6 separate regions of the Homo sapiens genome follow, and regions 2, 3, 4, 5 and 6 are each reported to be linked to region 1. Evidence: microRNA targets listed by miRTarBase, many of them from high-throughput screens and not tested one by one. Region 1 holds a microRNA gene; each other region holds the end of a gene's coding sequence. Distances are between the middles of the regions.
Evidence for each region. Region 1 holds the annotated microRNA hsa-miR-3612 (AGGAGGCAUCUUGAGAAAUGGA, at 1,235-1,256, opposite strand). A microRNA usually pairs through its seed, bases 2 to 8, with sites in the 3' UTR of a target mRNA and lowers its output. Matches are read on the target gene's strand: a 7mer-m8 pairs with bases 2 to 8, a 7mer-A1 pairs with bases 2 to 7 and ends in A, and an 8mer does both.

Region 1 (3,111 bases):
AGCTATACCAAATATTTATTTTGGGACTGGGTGTGTTGACTCACACTTGTAATCCCATAACTTTGGGAGACTGAGGCAGGAGGACTGCTTGAGGCCAGGAGTTCGAGGCTGCGGTGAGTTGTGATTGTGCCACTGCACTCCAGCCTGGGCAACAGAGCAAGACCCTGTCTCAAACATAATATAAATTTATTTCTAGAGCTAGCTCCATACAGAATTTCAAAGAACCTTGGGGCACTTGAGTACTGGCATCTATTTGTATACAAAACAGGATGAAACAGGATAAATCATTTCTTTCTCAATTTTTTAATTTTTTTTTTTTGCTGGGGGACAAAGAAGCTTGAACTTCTTATCTATCTACCTATCTATCTATCTATTATTTATTTATTTAGGGCTCACACCAAGCATTGGTTCCTCAGATACAAGTCAAAGATGAGGAAAATGGAGGCATTAAAATATTTGAAATCTGACTACAAAATGGCTGTGTTCTAAACGTCTTTGTTCCTTGAAAATTCATGTGTTGAAATCCTCCTCTTCAGAATGGAGGTCTTAGGAGGTGGTACCTTTGGGAGGTGATGAGGTCACGGGGGTGGAGCCTCATGAATGGGATTAGGGCCCTTATAAAAGGGTCTAGGGAGATTCCTCTCCCCTCCACTGTGAGAGGACATAGGGAGAAGCCCTGTCTATGAACCAGGAAGCCGGCTCTCACCAGATAGTGAATCTGCTGGTGTCCTGATCTTGGATCTCTGGGCTCTGGAACTGCAAGAAACAAATTCCTGTTGTTTAGATGCTTCCCAGTCTCTGGTATTTTGTTAGAGCAACTAGAACAGACTAAGACAGGTGCCAATCATAAAATATCAAATTTCTTCCCATGCTCAGAGTGCCACCAGCCATTTCTCCAATGGCTTGCATTTTCTACTCTTTCCAGAATTAGAGAGGGAGAGGAAGTCAGCTGAAGCCTGAGTCCTGTTAGGGCCACCTTGCTGTGTGAGTCACTGAAGTGTGGTTTTGCTGCTGTTGAGCATTGTTGGCTGGTTTCTGCAGATTTGGTAAGCCCCAGTCTCATTCAAAAGCCCCAAAAGTGAGACGCGTGTCTGGTCTCCTTGCTCCTGTTGGTCTGCTAGGCTTGTTCTACTAGGACACCTTTGGACACCTTCCCATGGGCGGTTCACAGAGGAAGATGCTGAGCTAGGGGTGTCAGGACGCCTCTAGTGAACTGGAAGTAGATCCCATTCCTTCCATTTCTCAAGATGCCTCCTCATCCCCAGTCCCCAAAGTGAATGACTGAAGTTTCTACTGCTCTGCAAAACCCAAGATAGGTCACCATTTTATTCCATTCTGATTCCCCCAGCAGACACAACCACCTGATTCCCCTTCGGAAATATTCTGCACCAAATGAAATCCGAGTGAGGTCATTAATTATGAAAATTCACAATGCGTAATTATAATAATTACTCTGATCACATAAACATTATACCACCATGAATAATTTAATAGGAATTGTGCTTTTGAAAAGCATGGCAATTAAAATAAAACCCAGGGAGGTGACAGAGACGATGCGGGAAATATATGCTCCAGTTTGTTCAGAGGAGGCTGTGCAGTCTCCAGAATGCTCACTCTTTGCCATAAAGAATCACTCTCGACCTTAGGAGGTTGGGAGACAAAGAAGGCAATGAGAGACCTGAGAGTTTACAAATGGGCTCCACTCCTGAGAAGTGGAGATCAAGAGTTCAAAGAGAGGCTGTTTTTCCCCTAAATAAAACAAGTTCAATCATCTTTATCTTTATCCCCCAGCAAAATAAAATAAAATAAAAAATCCTGATTGAAGAAGAAATGATTCATCCTGTCTGGACACCAATTCTCAAGTGCCCCGAGGTTCTTTGAAATTCTGTAAGGAGGTAGCTCTAGAAATAAATACAAGTTTTCTGGCCTCCCGATGGGTGGTGTGTACAACTAAGCAAAACAATCAGGGTGAAGGGATTACATTTTGCACTAAAAAGAAGAAATAAGACCAATTTACCCTGTGACTTTTATTAACCATGACAAAATCTTTTTTAAGTACCTTACTAAGTTTGTGAACAAGCAGCAATTTCTGCAATGAAACGGCCCCCTGAGATTAGGGAATTAAGTTATTTGGAATGGTTGGAAAGGAGAGTTTATACTGTGGAGAGGTGCAAAATGAGACCAGAGGGAGTTTGGACCCAGTTTTTAAAGAGGATCCTCTGTCCTCACTGACAGCAATCCAGGAGACACTACAGGTTCAGATTTGCACACTCCTTACCGTTCACAAAAAGCTGAACTATTATCTTGCTGTCCGGCTTTCAAATTTTTTGAAAATCAAGGTCTACTGTAAGAATCACATTTTACAACACAAGTTGGTGCTCGTGCTTGCATATACACACACACACATACACATACCTACACCAACACACAGAAAACACAGACCTACCATGTGAAATGTGCTCTATTAGGAATAGAATTTCTATGCTATTCTGTTTATGAAAGAAAACTGCTGACAGCAACAGTCTATCAAGTTAATTCCACTGTGTCATGATCCACAGTTCTTATTGTACACTTAACAGACACTTATGAAGTGCCTCATCTAGGTACTAGGGTACCTAGGTACTAAGTACACTTATGAAGTACCTCATCTAGGAATTTAGGTACCTAGGTACTAAGTACACTTAACAGACACTTATGAATACCTCATCTAGGAACTTAGGTACCTAGGTACTAAGTACACTTAACAGACACTTATGAATACCTCATCTAGGTACTAGGGTACCTAGGTACTAAGTACACTTAATAGATATTTACAAAGTACCTGCTGTGTGCCCAGCACTCATCTAGGTACCAGGGTTTCAGTACTGGCAACAGAGACAAAATCTATGCCCACGAGGAGCTTACATTCTACTGGAACAAGTTAGAAAAAACCATTGACAAACCCATTTCTTACAACTGCTGGGTGAGGAAGTTGGGCAGGGATTGTCAAAAACAGGTTCAGGTGGGGAAGTGTGGGCCTGTCTCCCTTGTACACAGCAGGAATCTCAGGGAGGCCGGCTTTGTTTCCAAGGCTTTCCTCTAAGTTTTGCCTTTCATTCTGTTTGACCACGA
Region 2 (3,111 bases), not on the chromosome of region 1:
CAGTTCCCCGCACCCATGGCAGCGGCCAGAGAGCCGGAGTTGCCGCAGGAAGCCCCCGCCACGGAACCCGCGCCCCCGCCGGCCTGCCGCTTCTTCCTGGAAGGCCGCTGCCGCTTCGGCGCCCGCTGCCGCCAGCCCCACCCTGGGGCGCCGGCGCCGCCTGGCCGCGAGGCGCAGCCGGAGGCCGGGGCCAAGAAGCCGCCGCTGCGCACAGCCGCGGACGTCATCCAGCGCATCCGCTGGGACCCGCGCCTCGACCCCGCCGACTTCTCGGTGGGCTACGTCGACCGCTTTCTGGGTGTGCGCGAGGAGCCCTTCAGCGCCTTTTGCTGGGACCAGCCGCTGGCGGCGCTCGGGCCGGGCGTGCTGGCAGTGCCCCAGCACCGCGTGCGCTTCTTCCGCTTCCGTGGCCGCCTTGTGTGGGACCGCGCCTCGCGCACCGACCTCGTCTTTGGCTCTGGCTCGGCGGCGGGACGCGGGCCCACCATCCTGGACGCACCGAACACCGAGGGCGCCCACGGGGCAGAGGGTGCCGAGTGGACACTGGCGGGGACAGGTCAGGAGGCCCAGGCTGCCCCCAAGCGAGGGAGCACAAGGCCGCTCTGCACAGGGCACCAGGAACCAGGCGTGGAGGAACCCGGAGAGCTGGAGGCGGCCCAGGAGAGGGCGCTGGGCACAGCTGCTGATTTGGGAACACTGGCCCCAAGAGGACGCCTCGCCGGAGTGACTGAGGCACTGAAGCCAACAGCAGCCACCAGGACCACATTGCTGGGGGGCAAGGAAGCACAGGCCCTGGGAGTCCCGGGGGGCTCCGCTGAGACGACAGAAGCCGAGTGGGGTCCTGCGGCCTGGCCCGAGGACAAAAGGGCCCGCCTTAGTGTTGCAGCCCCTTGCCAACCGCGCCCCACACATTTTGTGGCCCTCATGGTGACCGAGCCTGGGCTACAAGCAGAAGTGACCAAGGCCCAGGAATACCTGGTCCACGTGGCCCCACACTGCGCCAACTTCCTAGTGCCCTCTCAGAACCTACACCTGACCCTGGCCCTGCTGCGACTGGCAGGCGCTGGGGAGGAGGCCGCTGCCATTGGAGCTCTGAGACGGGCCCTCTTGGCCCCGGGGCTAAATGCACCCCCTCGGCTGAGCTTTAGAAAGCTGGTCCTCCTGGGCCCGCATGTGCTGTGTGCCCCACCCTCTCCCACACTGGAAAGCATGGCACAAGTGCTGAGCCAGAGGCTGGAAGCCGAGGGGCTGAGTACACTACAGTCTCCAGGGCAGCTGCACCCCCACCTCACCGTGGCCAAGGTGCCCCATGGTTCCCAGGTCCACCTCCCCAAGCTGGAGTTCACCCTCAGCCAGGAAGTGGGGTGCCAGCCCCTGCAGACACTCTGGCTGTGCCGTATAGGGAGGACAGGGGGGCCTTTCCAGCCCCTGGCTGAGATCCCCCTGGAGTGACACCCCCAGACCTCTGGAGGAGACAATGGATGCAAACAGCCCACACAGGAAAGACAAAGCAGGAGCGTGCACGCTCTCTCTTTCTCTCTTTAATTTTGGTTTCTCTCAAGCTTCCAAATGGTGCTCAGTGCTCCAAGGAAAGGAAGGAAGGAAGGAAAAGGAGGGGAGAGGAGGGGAAGGGGAGGCAGAGGAGGAACATCTGGAAAAAAAGCAGCCTGACAGTCCAGCTGTTTGCAAACTCATAGCACATCCTCCAGTTACATGGCAGAAGAGGGAGGGAGGGAGGGCCAAAAAGAAAAGGGAGAGGAGGAAGAAAAATAACTTAAATAAACACACACACAAAGAAAAGAGAAGGCAACATGACGTGAGCTGGTGATCCATGAAGGCAGGGAGGGAGGGGAACCGTTTTACCTGTGCTGAACCAAGGGAAGAATGCGGAGAGGGAGGGAGGGAAAGGGGAAAAAAAAATCAGAAGAAACACTGGGGGCAGAGGGAGGAGGGGACACGGAGACAACTTTATACAACTTGAGACGAGGCGGCCCGGCCGGCGTGTCCTCAGTGCGGTGTGGCGGCGGAGGATCTGGTGCTGGTGGTGCTGGCACTTCAGGGTGGGGGGCCGAGGACGGGCACAGTCTCTAAGCAGCTCCCCCACCCCAAACACGGAGGCCCCAAGGGGCTGGGAACAAGAGTCTGTGGCGAAGCAGGTGAGGCAGCGGGCGGTGGGCGGGCTTGCTGGGTGCCCCCGCCGCAGGCGGGCACGGGCTGGACGGCCTGTCTTCTTTCCACTGGCCCCCCGGCATGGGATGGGCCAGGGCGCCGGGTCGGGTACCGGAGTGCAAGCTCGAAAGAGAGAGAGAGAAAACACTGAGACAGCATTAGTGGAGTGAAAGGCGGACACAGATGAGCCTGCAGACCATGCCCCCAACCCTCCGCTGCCCATCCCCTCCTCCCCAATCCCATCCCTCTGAGGCAAAAAATAAAAACGTAGAAAAATCTCTGTACAGACTCCCCGGTGGGAAAACGGGGGCAGGGATGGTGGCTCTTCCTGGAGCGCACTCCCCACAAATAAATTTACAACCCAAGTCCACGGCTCAAAAACAGAATCCGCAAAGGCAGCGCTGGGGGCTGCAGCCCCTGCCCCCGCCCCTCCTCGCTGGGTGCTCAGAAGGCTGACAGCTGCGCCAGGCTGAGGCGGCAGTCGATGCTGGAGTTGTCCGGGCCCGTGTAGGCCAGGCCCAGGGGCTCTAGGAAGGCCCGGCAGGCGGCCTCGCCCTCGAAGGCCAGCTCGGCCTGCAGGTAGGAGACTGGCAGCGCAGGGCGGAAGCTATGGAGACAAGAGGAGAAGGTGATGAGGCGGGCGGGCGGGAGGGCAGGGGAGGGCCCCACGAGCGGGGAGGCCCCCCCATTCGGGTGCCCACAGGATTTCCTCAGCACAGTGCCTGCTGGCTCCCCACCCGCCTCCCAGCCTCCCCACCTCAGGGGCTCGGGGGGGGCCCGGGGGGGGTTAGTGACCCCAGTCCCCTGTGCCCCCCTCACCCTCACTTACCTGTGCGGGGGCCAGGGAGGAGCGGGGACGGGCAGGGAAGGGCCCAGCGGGCTCCTCCGCTGGCTGAGGGGCAGGGACCAGATGGAGGGAGCAGCACGTGGCAGGGGATGGGG
Region 3 (3,111 bases), not on the chromosome of region 1:
ATTTTATGAATGGTCAAGGAGTACATTTCTGCTTTATTAGCTAAGTAGCCTGTCAAGTTCTTAGTGATCAATGGTGAAGGGAAAATATCCCTTTTTAAGCCCTGTGCTGGTGAGTCCTCCCGGCTCCAGGAACATCTCAAGAGTGCATACTAATTTAGACAATAAAGATGTGGCAGTTACTAGATTCAAACTTACATGTTGTTTTTTCTTTTTTCCCTAAAGGAGGGGCAACCCCCTTCATTTATCTCGTGAGCGGTATCGGAAGCTCCATTTGGTCTGGCAACAACACTGCATTATAGAAGAGATTGCTAGGAGCCAAGAGACTAATCAGATGTTATTTGGATTCAACTGGCAGTTACTGTGAGCTCCAACTCTGCCTCAAGACAATCACAAATGACGACAGTAGTAAAGGCTGATTCAAAATTATGGAAAACTTTCTGAGGGCTGGGAAAGTATTGGAGGGTCTTTTGCTCCATGTCCAGGTTCACTTACATCAATAAAATATTTCTTAATGGAGTATTGCTTTCAATTAGCAAACATATGCTTCACAGGAAAAAAGGACATAGATCAATCTGTTTTATGTGCTAGTATTTCCAGGAATTTATTCCCCTTCATAATTTGTCTCATTTCATTTTATTTCATCCACTTGGTAGATGAAGTCACGTCAAACAGTTGTAGACATTTTATATGTTGGTTAACTCTTCTGCAATTTTGTATTTGGTGTTTTCCCCCCAAGTTTAGTTCAACTGACATTGGATCACTGACAAAATTCTAATAATCTGTGATAGTCTTCCTTGCAGTTAAAGAAGAATTGCAGAAACCATGCAATATACTTGGGAAAGATTCCAAAAATAAATTTTTTATTATTTCTCTTTTAAGGAAATACCCCTAATGTGCCACCTGCTGCTATCACCACAAATTAAACTCAATCTCTATGTGGACAGAGGATGATTTCTGCCAATATGGAAAAGCTTTTTTCTCACTGTAGGCCTCAAGAAAAGTTAGGGTAATGTATTTGTTATTCATTCCTGACGGTACAAAGAGCTTGCAGTTCTCACCTCTGACTACCAGTAGCTTTGTTGAGTTTTGAAATAATACTTGACATTTTCCAAAGGCAAATCTCATTCTGCAAGGAGATTGTGGCACCATCCTGTTTGACTCTCAGAAACCTCTTGTAATTCTGATGTAAAAACTGTAGAATGAAGATGAGAAAATTCTCGCAATGAGTGGATCATGACAACTGTAAATTAGAACAATCAGATTTAAACCAATTCCGCAGTCTTCTATATCTTTGTAAAAGACAAATCCTTGATGTTGTCTGTGTGCAACCTTTTCATAAACTCTGGTTTTATGACTAGTACAAACCACCAAAAAAGCCATGTGATCAATAGTCTGTGTCCTGTTATAACATGCTGTGGTTGAGCCATCTTGTTTATAAATAATAGAGCTCTCCTGAATTTGTGCATAGACTTCTTGGTTCCTGGCTTTTGTTTTTTGTATCAAGAGATTGTGATATAAAACAGCAGAAGATAAATGGAAACCTTCCATTTTAACTTACGTTGTTTCTGGGGTAATGTTAGAACCTTGAAAGATGCATTCAAAGACTGTATCTTATTTTGCCCTTGGCTATTAGTGTCTCACATATGTGTGTAAATGTTTTCCTACCTTCTTTTTGCTCAGCAAAGGCAAGCAAGTAAAATATATTTGCTAAGTGATTAGTGATGCACATTTGGGGCTAGATTTTTTTGGTACTTTTATGTAAAGAAAAGTGGATTTTGCAGTAAGGGATTGGCATGAGCAGGCGTCAGAATCACAATCATGATTTTCTACTTGAATAATTACAATTCAGAAGGTATCTGGATAAATAGATACATGTCTAGTGAACAATTTGTAACAATAACAGGTAAGGATCAGGAAATTCAGTATTCAGTTTGTCAGATTTGCCAGAATGATGAAAGTATTTGAACATGTGTGTTTGTTTCTTATATAATTGTATTGAGTGGATTGTTTGACTGGGAAATCTGGGCTAGAATAGGAAACAGAAGATACTGACTTCTACCCTAATAGATGGGCCCCAATTTAGCAAAGATAAACTGACTTTATTTTTAGTCCTTTTTATATTAACTTAATAAATTCTGGAGTTAGGCTCTCAAGAGGACAGAGGGACTGTCTGGCAATGGCCAGCCAGACCTTTACTGCCAAAGAACCCATTTCATATTGCGTTCCACTGATTGAGATTGATTCAGATTTTTGCACTGTAGATGAGCGTATGTCTCAGTGCTGCCCCAAGCCCCAGGGATTTCTCATTATGTTCAAATGTCCTAGTGATTTACCTTAATCATTGCAAACAATTATGCTTATGAAGTTTACTTACAAACAAGCAACTGAGTCACTTTATTTTCTTTAGTGTAGTATGTGAAGGCACTGGTTCAACAGGATGGCTCCAGAACTGTGTTTTTCTAATGTTTGGTAAGGGGCTAGTGAGAATTTTAATGATATGGTGAAGAAAAATATATCTGTATAATTAATTTATTATATTGGTGTATGGGCTGTGAGTTCACCTTTTAGTGGTCATTTGTCATTTCATAACAACTATGCATTTTGGTTCACTGTGATGATGATCTATATTTAGTGACTGCAACATGTTTATACCACTGATTCAAATTCCATCCATGATGAAGTTATACAAATAATGCATATATTGATAACTTTTATTGCAAAAATGTAAATTTAAAACTTGTATAATGTTCTTGTGCTTTTTAAAATAAAATATATGTGTATATTTAAAAAGAAAAATAGGGACTTCTCATGTTTGGGGATTTGGGTTTGAAGTATAAAAATCTGCTAGGAAGACTCTCCAGTTGAAACCTTTGTCAGCCGAGGCAAATGTTTTAAAAGACATAGGTGTTTAGTATACATGGGTCTCCAAACTTTTTAGCCATATACTCCATCAATAAATAGTTTTTAGCATGCATACCAAATAGAATATAAACACATAACACATATTTTATATTCTATATGCAGTGCTTTACTAATACATCATGCAAATTATAAAACATAGCTTTAAAAGGAGATTTAAAAATCAGTTAAAAATAGAAATAGATATTTAAA
Region 4 (3,111 bases), not on the chromosome of region 1:
AAAACGTAAGACTGACCACACAAATATCAGATAAAAATTGATAAGAGTATTAACAGGAACAAAAAGGGACATTACTTAATTATAAAAGGGTCAATACACCAAGAATACTAAGCAAACCTACATGTGTATATACCAAACAACAGAGCTTTAAATTATGTGGAGCAAAAACTGATAGAACTTAAAGGAGGAATAGGTAATTCCACAATTATAGCTCAGGACTTCAACATCCTTCTCTTGGCAATTGATAGAAATACTAGACAGAAAATCAGCAAGGATACAGGAGACCTAAATAACACCACCAACTAACAGGATCATACAAACTTTTACAGAAACTCCACCAAATGACCGAGAACACACATTCTTTTCAAGCAGCTATGTAAAACAAGACAGCCTATATCCTGGGTCATAAGGAAAAAAAGTCAACAAATTTCAACAGTAACATCAAATGCAAAACAAATTAGAAATCAATAACAAATAGCAGGGAATACTCCAAACACTATTAAACAATATACTTCTAAATAATTCCTGGGTTAGAGAAGATGTCTCAAAAGGAATCAGGCAATCTTAGAACTGAGTAAGATAATCAAAAGCATATTAAGACTTGTGGGATGAAACTAACAGCAGTGTAAGAAAAATGTATAGAACTTAAAGCTTATATTAAAAAAGAAAAAAAGCCTCAAATCAATAACCTAAACATCCACGTCAGGAAACCACTGAGTCAAATACAACCAGAGCAAGTAGGAGAAAGGATACAATACACATCAGAGCAGATATCAGTGAAATTAAGAACAGAGACTGGAGAAAAATCAGTGATATAAAGTGCTATTTCTTTGAAATGATCAATGAAATTGACATATGTCTACAAAGACTGACAATAATAAGTGATACATTTCCAATATCAAGAATACAACAAGGAACATAAGTACAGATCCTGCTGCCATCAAGAGGATAAAAGGAAATATTTCAAAGAATGCTACAAATTAGAACATTTACATAAAATGAACACTTCCTTAAGAAAATCTATAAAAATTCATCCAATATGAAATACTCTGAATAGTTCTATACCTATTAAATAAAATAAATACATAATTAAAAAGCATTCAAAAGGAAAATCTCCAGGTCCCACTTCTTCACTGGAGAAAGCTACCAAACATTAAAGGAACAAATAACACCAATTCTACACATGATCTTCCAAAAAAACAGAAGAGAATTCCTTCCAATTCATGTTAGGAGGTTAGTTATCATCTAGACATCAAAACCAAACAGTAACAGTTGAAGAAAGAAAACTACAGATTATCACTCATGAAATCAGAGGAAAGCTTCCTCAACAAAATACTAGCAAATGAAATACTGTAGCATAGTACACAAACAAAATTATACTCCATGATCAAGTAGGGCTTATCACAAAGATGTGAGGCTGGTTCAATACTTGAAACTCAATCAAGGTAACACATCATATCAACTGACTATAGAAGTAACATCACATAATTAAATCAATTGGTGGAGAAAAAGCATATGACAAAATTCAACACTTATTAATAATAACCAAAAAAATCCCAGCAAATTAGGAATAGAGGGAAACTTTCTAAACTCGATAGAGAAACTCTTTGGAAGCAACTTTCAACATCATAATAATGAGAAACTGAACATTTCCCCCTAATATCAGGAACAAGGCATGGATAACTTGTCACTATTCGTATTCAACATCACACTGGAAATCCTACCTAGTACAATAACATGAGAAAAGCAAATAAAAGGTATACAGATGGGAAGCAAGAAATAAAACTGTCCCAAATTGCAAATGACATTTCTATATTTAAAATCCTAAGGATTCTCCCAAAAGAAATGGCAAGAAATAATGAGTTTAGGAAGGTTGCAAGACAGCAAAATAAGATTGAAAAAATAATGTTTCTGTATACTAGCCAACATCATGTGAATATTGAAACTTTAAATATCAATGCCATTTACAATCACTCAAAAAACTATGCAGCTATAATTCTTATTTTAAATGTGCAGGAGTTATACTGTGTAAACTATAAAACAGTAATGAAATATATCAAAGAAAATTTAAATAATGAAAAGATAGGCTATGTTCATGAATTGGAAGACTAAGATGCCAATTTCCAACACATTGATCTATAGATTTAACTCAATTTCTATCAAAATCCAAGCAAGAATATTTGAAAAACAGAAAAACCAATCCTAAAGTGTATATGGAAAGTCAAACTAGGAATGCTAAATGAATTTTAAATAAAAATAGTAAGAAAAAAGAAATCACATTACCTAATTTTGAGATTTACCATACAGCTATAGCAATCAAGTAAACCAACAGATGGGAATCAAGAAAAATTCTCAGTGTTAGTGTTTAAAACCCATTAAAAAAGAATTTTTTTAAAAAATCAAAGACCTAAACAGTATTAAGTGGTACAATAAAATGTGCGCATTCATGTTTCTTTTAATCCTTAAATATAAAAGTATTTCATAACTCAAGGCTTCATTATTTCTCATAAAAACAATGCTTCTTAAGAAGAGACAATGTTGTAGAACAAAGACATTGAGTAAGTTTCCAGACCTTCCCTTACTAACTTTCCTGACACAGGACAGAAATGTACATACAAGACAACAGTATAAAAGCAGTGTCTGCATTTCATTTTCTTTTCTATGTCACCTCTTTCTGTTTATAAAAATTCCTGAGATAACATTGCACTGTAAACTAATGAGAAAGATGGAGCTAAAGGTTTTCCCAAGTGCGTAATAACCACTGGGTGTTTTTCCAGGATGAATTCGGATGGAGAATAAGGCTCTAAGCTGCGTGATTTTCTAATATGACTCCTTAGGTGACAAATGACATTTGGCAACAGAAGGTTTTCTCACAGTGAAGACACTTGTGGGGTTTCTCTTTGGTATGTACGATCAGATGCCATGTAAGATGCTTCCTCTTGCAAAAGATTTTCCTCAGTGGTGACATTCAAAAAGTTTTTCCCCAATAAAAGTTCTTGGATGTTGACTGAGGTCTGCCCACTTGTAAAAGGTCTTCCCACATCTGTTACACTGATAGGATTTCTCCCAGTATGCATCCTTTGATGCTGAGTGAGGGACGAGCTGCGACTG
Region 5 (3,059 bases), 71 Mb from region 1:
GTTAGCATCCCCAGCCTCTGCCCTGAACCAAACCTAATTGTCCTGGTCTTAAGTTCTGCAACCCACCCACTCCCCCAGCAAACATAACTCCTAGTATGCTTTACTCACAGGCAAGGGAAAGGATGGGGTTTGAACCCCTTTGGCCTGAATATTTGTAACTTCCCAACTGGTGCGGGTCATTACATTTGGTGTGTGTCCCATTGAATCAACCCTGTTGTTTCCTTCTGTCATGCTTTCCACTTCTTCCTGGATCATCTCTCCCCATCACTTGCCTTGGTAGTCACTGCCCTGGATCTCTTTACCCAGCAGTGATGGCCTGGCTTTTCTTTTGGGCAATCCACCCCTATCCCTATCCTGCAGGCTGTGTGGATGGTCACCTGGGTGGCAGTAGTGACCCTGAGTGTGGATTTGGGCCTGGCTGTGGGTGTGGTCTTCTCCATGATGACTGTGGTCTGCCGCACCCGGAGGTGGGCATAGAGATGAGTGGAGTTGAGGTCGGGGCAGGGGAAGAGAATGAGGTGCTTGGGGTGACTCTCCAGCCAGGCCAGGCTAAGCTGGAAATCTGGCCCCACCTTCTTCCCTAGGGTGTAGTGCCTGGCACTTGGACAGGCTGAGGGGACAGAGCTCTACAGACCACTCAGAGGAAGCCCCAGGGTGGGTGGGCTGCAGCCAAAGAAGGAAGGGAAGATTAGCCCCAGACATTTCTCTGATCCTTTGACCTCTTAGCTCCTCCAGGTCCCGGGGCTCTGCATCCTGAGCTATCCAACACCACTGTACTTTGGGACCCGTGGGCAGTTTCGCTGCAACCTGGAGTGGCACCTGGGGCTCGGAGAAGGAGAAAAGGTGAAGGAGCTTGGTTTAGGAGGGATGTGGATCCTCAGGGAGTGGGAGGCAGGTGGGTGTTCTGAGGGGGATCCTTGTGCTCAAGGGGTGCATGTTCATGCTGTGTTTCGGGAGTGGTGACTGCCCTTCTTTACTTATAGGAGACTTCAAAGCCAGATGGCCCAATGGTTGCAGGTGAGATGGGGTGACAAGAAGGAAGATTTGGGCATGTTGCATGGTGACACCTGGGTACTCCTGTCTTCTCCCATTCTAGTTGCTGAGCCTGTCAGGGTGGTGGTCCTAGACTTCAGTGGTGTCACCTTTGCAGATGCTGCTGGGGCCAGAGAAGTGGTGCAGGTGAGGGAGAGGGTAGGTTGAGGAGAAACCCCTTAGCATCTCACTCATACCCTCTGATCTGGGACTTAACCCCTTTGCCCCATCCCTGCAGCTGGCCAGCCGATGTCGAGATGCTAGGATCCGCCTCCTCCTGGCTCAGTGTAATGGTGAGATGTGTGGAGAAGAGCGGGGCCCAGTGCCTGGGCAATGACTGGACACCTGCGGTAGGGAAAAGGACCCGGTGTGGACTTAGGGTCTCAGAGTCTGACACCCTCCCCACATAGCCTTGGTGCAGGGGACACTGACCCGGGTAGGACTCCTGGACAGGGTGACTCCAGATCAGCTGTTTGTGAGTGTGCAGGATGCAGCTGCTTATGCCCTGGGGAGCCTGTTAAGGGGCAGTAGCACCAGGAGCGGGAGCCAGGAGGCACTGGGCTGCGGCAAGTGAGGCAGGGGTAAGTGGCTGGAGACCCAGGGAGAGGGGTTTGGGAAAGGGTCTGAGGAAGATCAAGAAGAAAAGGGTGGGGACGGAATGAATAGTAGATTGAAGACCAAATCAGGGAGCCCGGGCTGAGCTATGGGTGAGGAACTGAAGAACTCAGATCCCTAAGTAGGTGGGGTACCCCTGAGAGGACTGCCACATTTCATTAAGGAAGAGGGGTGCCTAATCTATTCCTGACATGTCTCCTCTCTTCTCCAGGAGCTCACTGACCCAAAGATTTGCACCGTGTGGGTCTGACCTCATCATGTGGAGTGCAGAGGGCCCTGATGACATGTGTGTGATGAGGACCATGACCCTTGAACCCCCTTACCTAACGTAACTAATAAAATGAAGCTGAGAGCTTTGGAATCCATGAAGTGAGTCTAGGTGTTTGCACAGGGACTCTGGTGCCCCTTCTTTTGTGCCCACAGCATTGCAGAGACACAACTAAGAATGGCTTTCACCAACCACCAGCCCTCACCCCAGCCCCAGAGCCACAAGTTCTCTCTGTGGGGGTGGGGCTGGAGCAGGTACACAGAGTACTGGATCTGAAGATGCAGATGAGGGGCACAGTCTTGGGATTATGTGTTGGGGAACTTCCCCACCCCCTCGGTCCCAAGATGAGAGGACAGTGTTTCCACCTTAGGTTCTTAGAGTCCCTCTGGGCTCTTTGGCACTTGGAAAGTGATCCCCCCATTTCCTGCCCCATGAGAATGGGCAGGGGGAGGACTTGGCACTGGCTGTGGGAGAGGTTATGGCTCCACCAGGCCTCTGGGCACTGGAAAAAGGAGGGGTGTCACCAGGACAACCCCTACTGGGCATCAGGTTCTGAAAAGGAAGAGTGAGGAACTAGAGGCTCAGGGACAGCCAGTAGAGTGCTCACAGGGTGGTGGGGTTTGTTGGAAATTCCTGGCAGGGACAAGGAGGCAGGCCCAGCCTGACAGTCAGAAATCCCCAGCGGGCCATCACTGGGAGGTCATGCACTGCAGCCGGTGTTTGAAGAAGAGCAGCCGGTGTTTGGCCATCTGGCTCTCGTCCAGTGATCCTGGGTAACGGTACCGGGCGTAAGTCTCTGCTCCGGCATCCCTTGATGTCCAAGGCAGCTTCAGTTTGGATGCATGATCCACCACGACGTCGGAGCAGGAGCCAACCCGAAGGGAACCAAGCCCATCCAAGAAGAATTCTGGGGGTGGAGGGGAGTACACAGTGAGGGATCCTGAGGGTGCAGAAGGCCGACTGGTAAGGGAGAACTCTCAAATTTAGGGTGTGGAAAGTGTGTGTGCAAAGGCTTGTTTCTAAGGACCCTGAGCATGTAAATCAACTCCCTGGGTCTCAGTCTTACTCTTGTGTAAATGGAGTCAATATACTTGTGCTTTGAAAATCGAAAAACCTACCCCTACTCCCAGAGGTTAAATAAACG
Region 6 (3,111 bases), not on the chromosome of region 1:
TTTTCCTGTCTCAGCCTCCCGAGTAGCTAGGATTACAGGGGTGTGCCACCACGCCTGGCTAATTTTTCTATTTTTAGTAGCGAGAGCATTTCGTCATGTTGGCCAGTCTGGTCTCCAACTCCTGACCTCAGGTGATCTGCCTGCCTTGGCCTCCCAAAGTGCTGGGATTATAGGCATGAGCCACCGCACCCAGCATCAGTAAGTTTTAATATTACGTCTAGTCGGCTCACGGGTGCTTGAGCCAGAAGTGGGAAGGGTACACTTGTATTTTGGGCTCAAATGGTTTTCAAATAAAATACATCTGACCAAATAAAGTGAACACAGTCCTGAGCCCTCCTCTCTCCAGATATGCATGCAATCCACACCATCAAAAGAAGAGTTCACTGTTCCCAAGGCCAAGAAGAGGCTATGCTGTACTGCAAAGAACTCTATAGCAAAATCGAACACCCAAATTAAGTGCCAGAATGATGCAGCCCGCTCTCACCAGGAAGAACGACATGTGAGAAAACTTATAGCAGATGCAAAAATGTCAACCCACCATGTTATTTAAAAAAAAATTTTATCAGGATACAAGGACACTTCACTGTTTTTAACCCACACAAGGTTAGGTAATGTTTACCTTGAAACATAATCGCATATGGCCCTTTATGCCACTCACCTAGGCCTTTAATAATGAGGGCAATTGCTAAGTGTGCTGTCTCTTCTGGGGACTTCTCTCTGAAAGGGGGATGATATATTGATAAAATATTTTATTAATCAGTTAAGAATTTTTGATCTACTTGAAAAAGATTAAATTATAATATTTCACTTTGAAACTGCTATTGCTCATGCAAAAGTACTTGATTTTCATACTATATGGAGCTCACAATCTTTGGACTACACAAACATTCTCTAAAAGGGCAATGACTTATATTTTCCAAAGTTTAGACATGACATCCAAAGGACAAAAGGTAACTATTTTTTTTACCAATGTGGTTGGAACAGTGACAACGAGCAATGTATTCACCAAACTGATCAAAAAATCTGCCTGTGGTTCCTTCACTGTATGTGTGTGCAGAGAAAGGCAGAAAAGCTTCTATCCATGTCATTGTCTCTCTTGCCCATGTGCCAGTAATTTGAATAAGATGAGAATGGGCCAGGCGCAGCGGCTCACGCCTGTAATCCCACTACTTTGGGAGACCAAGGCGGGTGAATCACGAGGTCAGGAGTTAGAGACCAGCCTGGCCAACATGGTGAAACCTCATCTCTACTAAAAATACAAAAATTAGCTGGGCGTGGTGGTGGGCACCTGTAATCCCAGCTACTCAGGAGACTGAGGCAGGAGAATCGCTTGAACCCAGGAGGCAGAGGTTGCAGTGAGCAGAGATCACGACAATGCACTCCAGCCCTGCGACAGTGCGAGACTCCGTCTCAAAAAAAAAAAAAAGGTGAGAATGTGCTTTTCCAGAATAACCCCAGTTGTATCTAGAATTTGTTTTCAATATAAAGGCAGGTATGAGAATGTTTTGAACAACAGAATTAATCCATCTAGATTAGAATGCTGTGTGGCATGACCATTCTCGAATTTTGAAAGCCTGAGCTGGTTGTGGGCAAGGGGATATTCATTAATGACATAAATTTCATTTATGAAATATGTATCCATCATCTAGGTATCTTATACATGGAGAGCTGACTGCATCCCTTGTATAAAAAGTAAATGAAGACCGGAAGGAAGCAGACTTTGTCCTGCAAACTGAAGCAAAGTTCCATGCTAAGAATCAGCAGGTTTTCTAGGTAGGTAATGCCACCAGTGGAGGATTATTACAGTTCTCAAATCATGAGGGAAAGAGATGGAGAAGAGGGAGGGAGGAGGGAAAATCTTGCATTCTAAGAGGTAAGAGTCCCCATTACAATTGCAATGCTTCTTTAGACAGCTGATTTTTCTGGCTGGAAGGCACATTAAAAATAACCCTAACAATAACTTACCAAGACAATGGAAATCAAAAGAAAAGAAGGTAGACGTGCAGCTGTCTTATTAACATGACAACCAACTACAGCTGAAACAATACTATGGTACAGGGACTAGCTCATGTTAAAGACTGGTTATTTAGGTAAAGAGGATCTGGTGCTCTTGGTTTAGCTTCAGTGATTTTCCAGCACTTATTAAAGCCATTGTGCCCTGAACATGGAGACCCCCAAATCCTCTATGTGCCAAAGATTAAGTTGTAGAGAATTACATCAATGTTTGCTGTTGGTGTGCACCACAGATGAGACCAAGCTTCCTGGTCCGGCTAAGTGGAATCTTCCATGCACTGTGCACCACTCAGCTAGAAAGTCAACTAAGCAGAAAGGAGATAAGGAATGGCTATGGAATACCTGACTTCTTTATCTTGGTTATGTGTCCACAATTTTCATAAAAATAAATAATACACATTAAGTCAAAATCTGGGCTCAAATGTGTAACAAGAAAACAAAAGGACAACAATCTGGTATTCCGGTTTTTTTTTTTTTTTTGAGACGGAGTCTCGCTCTGTTGCCCAGGCTGGAGTGCAGTGACGTGATCTCGGCTCACTACAAGCTCCGCCTCCCAGGTTCACACCTTAGCCTCCCGAGTAGCTGGGACTACAGGCGCCCGCCACCACGCCCGCCTAATGTTTTAATTTTTTAGTAGAGACGGGGTTTCACCGTGTTGGCCAGGCTGGTCTCGAACTCCTGACCTCAGGTAATCCACCTGCCTCAGCCTCCCAAAGTGCTGGAATTACAGGTGTGAGCCACCGCACCCAGCCAACAATCTGGTATTCTTAAGGCAAAACAGTAGAAATCACTTTAAATAGACACTTTATTAGATCCACAGGCGATAAAATCCCAGAGCTACTGTTAGGCACGTAAATATAGACCCTGTAAGAAAAAAACAATTGAGAGTACTATTAGTTCTATTAAGAGTTACTTGAGGGAACATCTTTTTTTAAGAAAACCTAAAAAAGAAAACCTAGAAACTTAGATTGCTCACTGATGTCCCATATTCCGTGAAACGCCTGCCTACTGAAAAAACAAATCCCACACCCTTTATTTTATTTTCTTATTTTAGAGACATGGTCTCATCTGGTACCCAGGAGGAGTGCACCATGCAAT

Region 2: miRTarBase lists LENG8 as a target of hsa-miR-3612. Seed matches in the 3' UTR shown: 7mer-m8 at 1,633-1,639.
Region 3: miRTarBase lists UBR1 as a target of hsa-miR-3612. The part of its 3' UTR that is shown has no 7-base or 8-base seed match.
Region 4: miRTarBase lists ZNF805 as a target of hsa-miR-3612. The part of its 3' UTR that is shown has no 7-base or 8-base seed match.
Region 5: the mRNA of B4GALNT1 is a reported target of hsa-miR-3612. Seed matches in the 3' UTR shown: 7mer-m8 at 2,562-2,568, 7mer-m8 at 1,582-1,588 and 7mer-m8 at 888-894.
Region 6: miRTarBase lists MCUR1 as a target of hsa-miR-3612. Seed matches in the 3' UTR shown: 7mer-m8 at 1,340-1,346.

What each region holds. Positions count from the first base shown.
Region 1 is chr12:128,292,250-128,295,360 of GRCh38, reverse strand. It overlaps MIR3612 (microRNA 3612), which reads right to left and starts at 1,269; the gene lies at 1,183-1,269. The region is part of intron 1 of TMEM132C (transmembrane protein 132C); the gene reads right to left.
Region 2 is chr19:54,460,431-54,463,541 of GRCh38, reverse strand. It overlaps LENG8 (leukocyte receptor cluster member 8), which reads right to left. Exons shown (of 16, transcript NM_052925.4): 16 at 1,526-2,776. The coding sequence ends at 2,614. It overlaps LENG9 (leukocyte receptor cluster member 9), which reads left to right. Exons shown (of 1, transcript NM_001301782.2): 1 at 1-1,810. The coding sequence starts at 16. The coding sequence ends at 1,452. Among named protein-coding and RNA genes, the nearest start is that of LENG9, 1.8 kb to the left of the region's middle.
Region 3 is chr15:42,942,582-42,945,692 of GRCh38, reverse strand. It overlaps UBR1 (ubiquitin protein ligase E3 component n-recognin 1), which reads left to right. Exons shown (of 47, transcript NM_174916.3): 47 at 223-2,796. The coding sequence ends at 364. Among named protein-coding and RNA genes, the nearest start is that of TTBK2, 23 kb to the right of the region's middle.
Region 4 is chr19:57,254,463-57,257,573 of GRCh38, reverse strand. It overlaps ZNF805 (zinc finger protein 805), which reads right to left. Exons shown (of 4, transcript NM_001023563.4): 4 at 1-3,111. The coding sequence ends at 2,871. Among named protein-coding and RNA genes, the nearest start is that of ZNF805, 15 kb to the right of the region's middle.
Region 5 is chr12:57,624,140-57,627,198 of GRCh38, forward strand. B4GALNT1 (beta-1,4-N-acetyl-galactosaminyltransferase 1) reads right to left here. Exons shown (of 11, transcript NM_001478.5): 11 at 1-2,822. The coding sequence ends at 2,605. It also overlaps the pseudogene SLC26A10P. Among named protein-coding and RNA genes, the nearest start is that of B4GALNT1, 7.5 kb to the right of the region's middle.
Region 6 is chr6:13,787,988-13,791,098 of GRCh38, forward strand. It overlaps MCUR1 (mitochondrial calcium uniporter regulator 1), which reads right to left. Exons shown (of 9, transcript NM_001031713.4): 9 at 1-2,877. The coding sequence ends at 2,822. Among named protein-coding and RNA genes, the nearest start is that of MCUR1, 25 kb to the right of the region's middle. RefSeq lists an enhancer at 1-497 and a silencer at 1,166-1,334.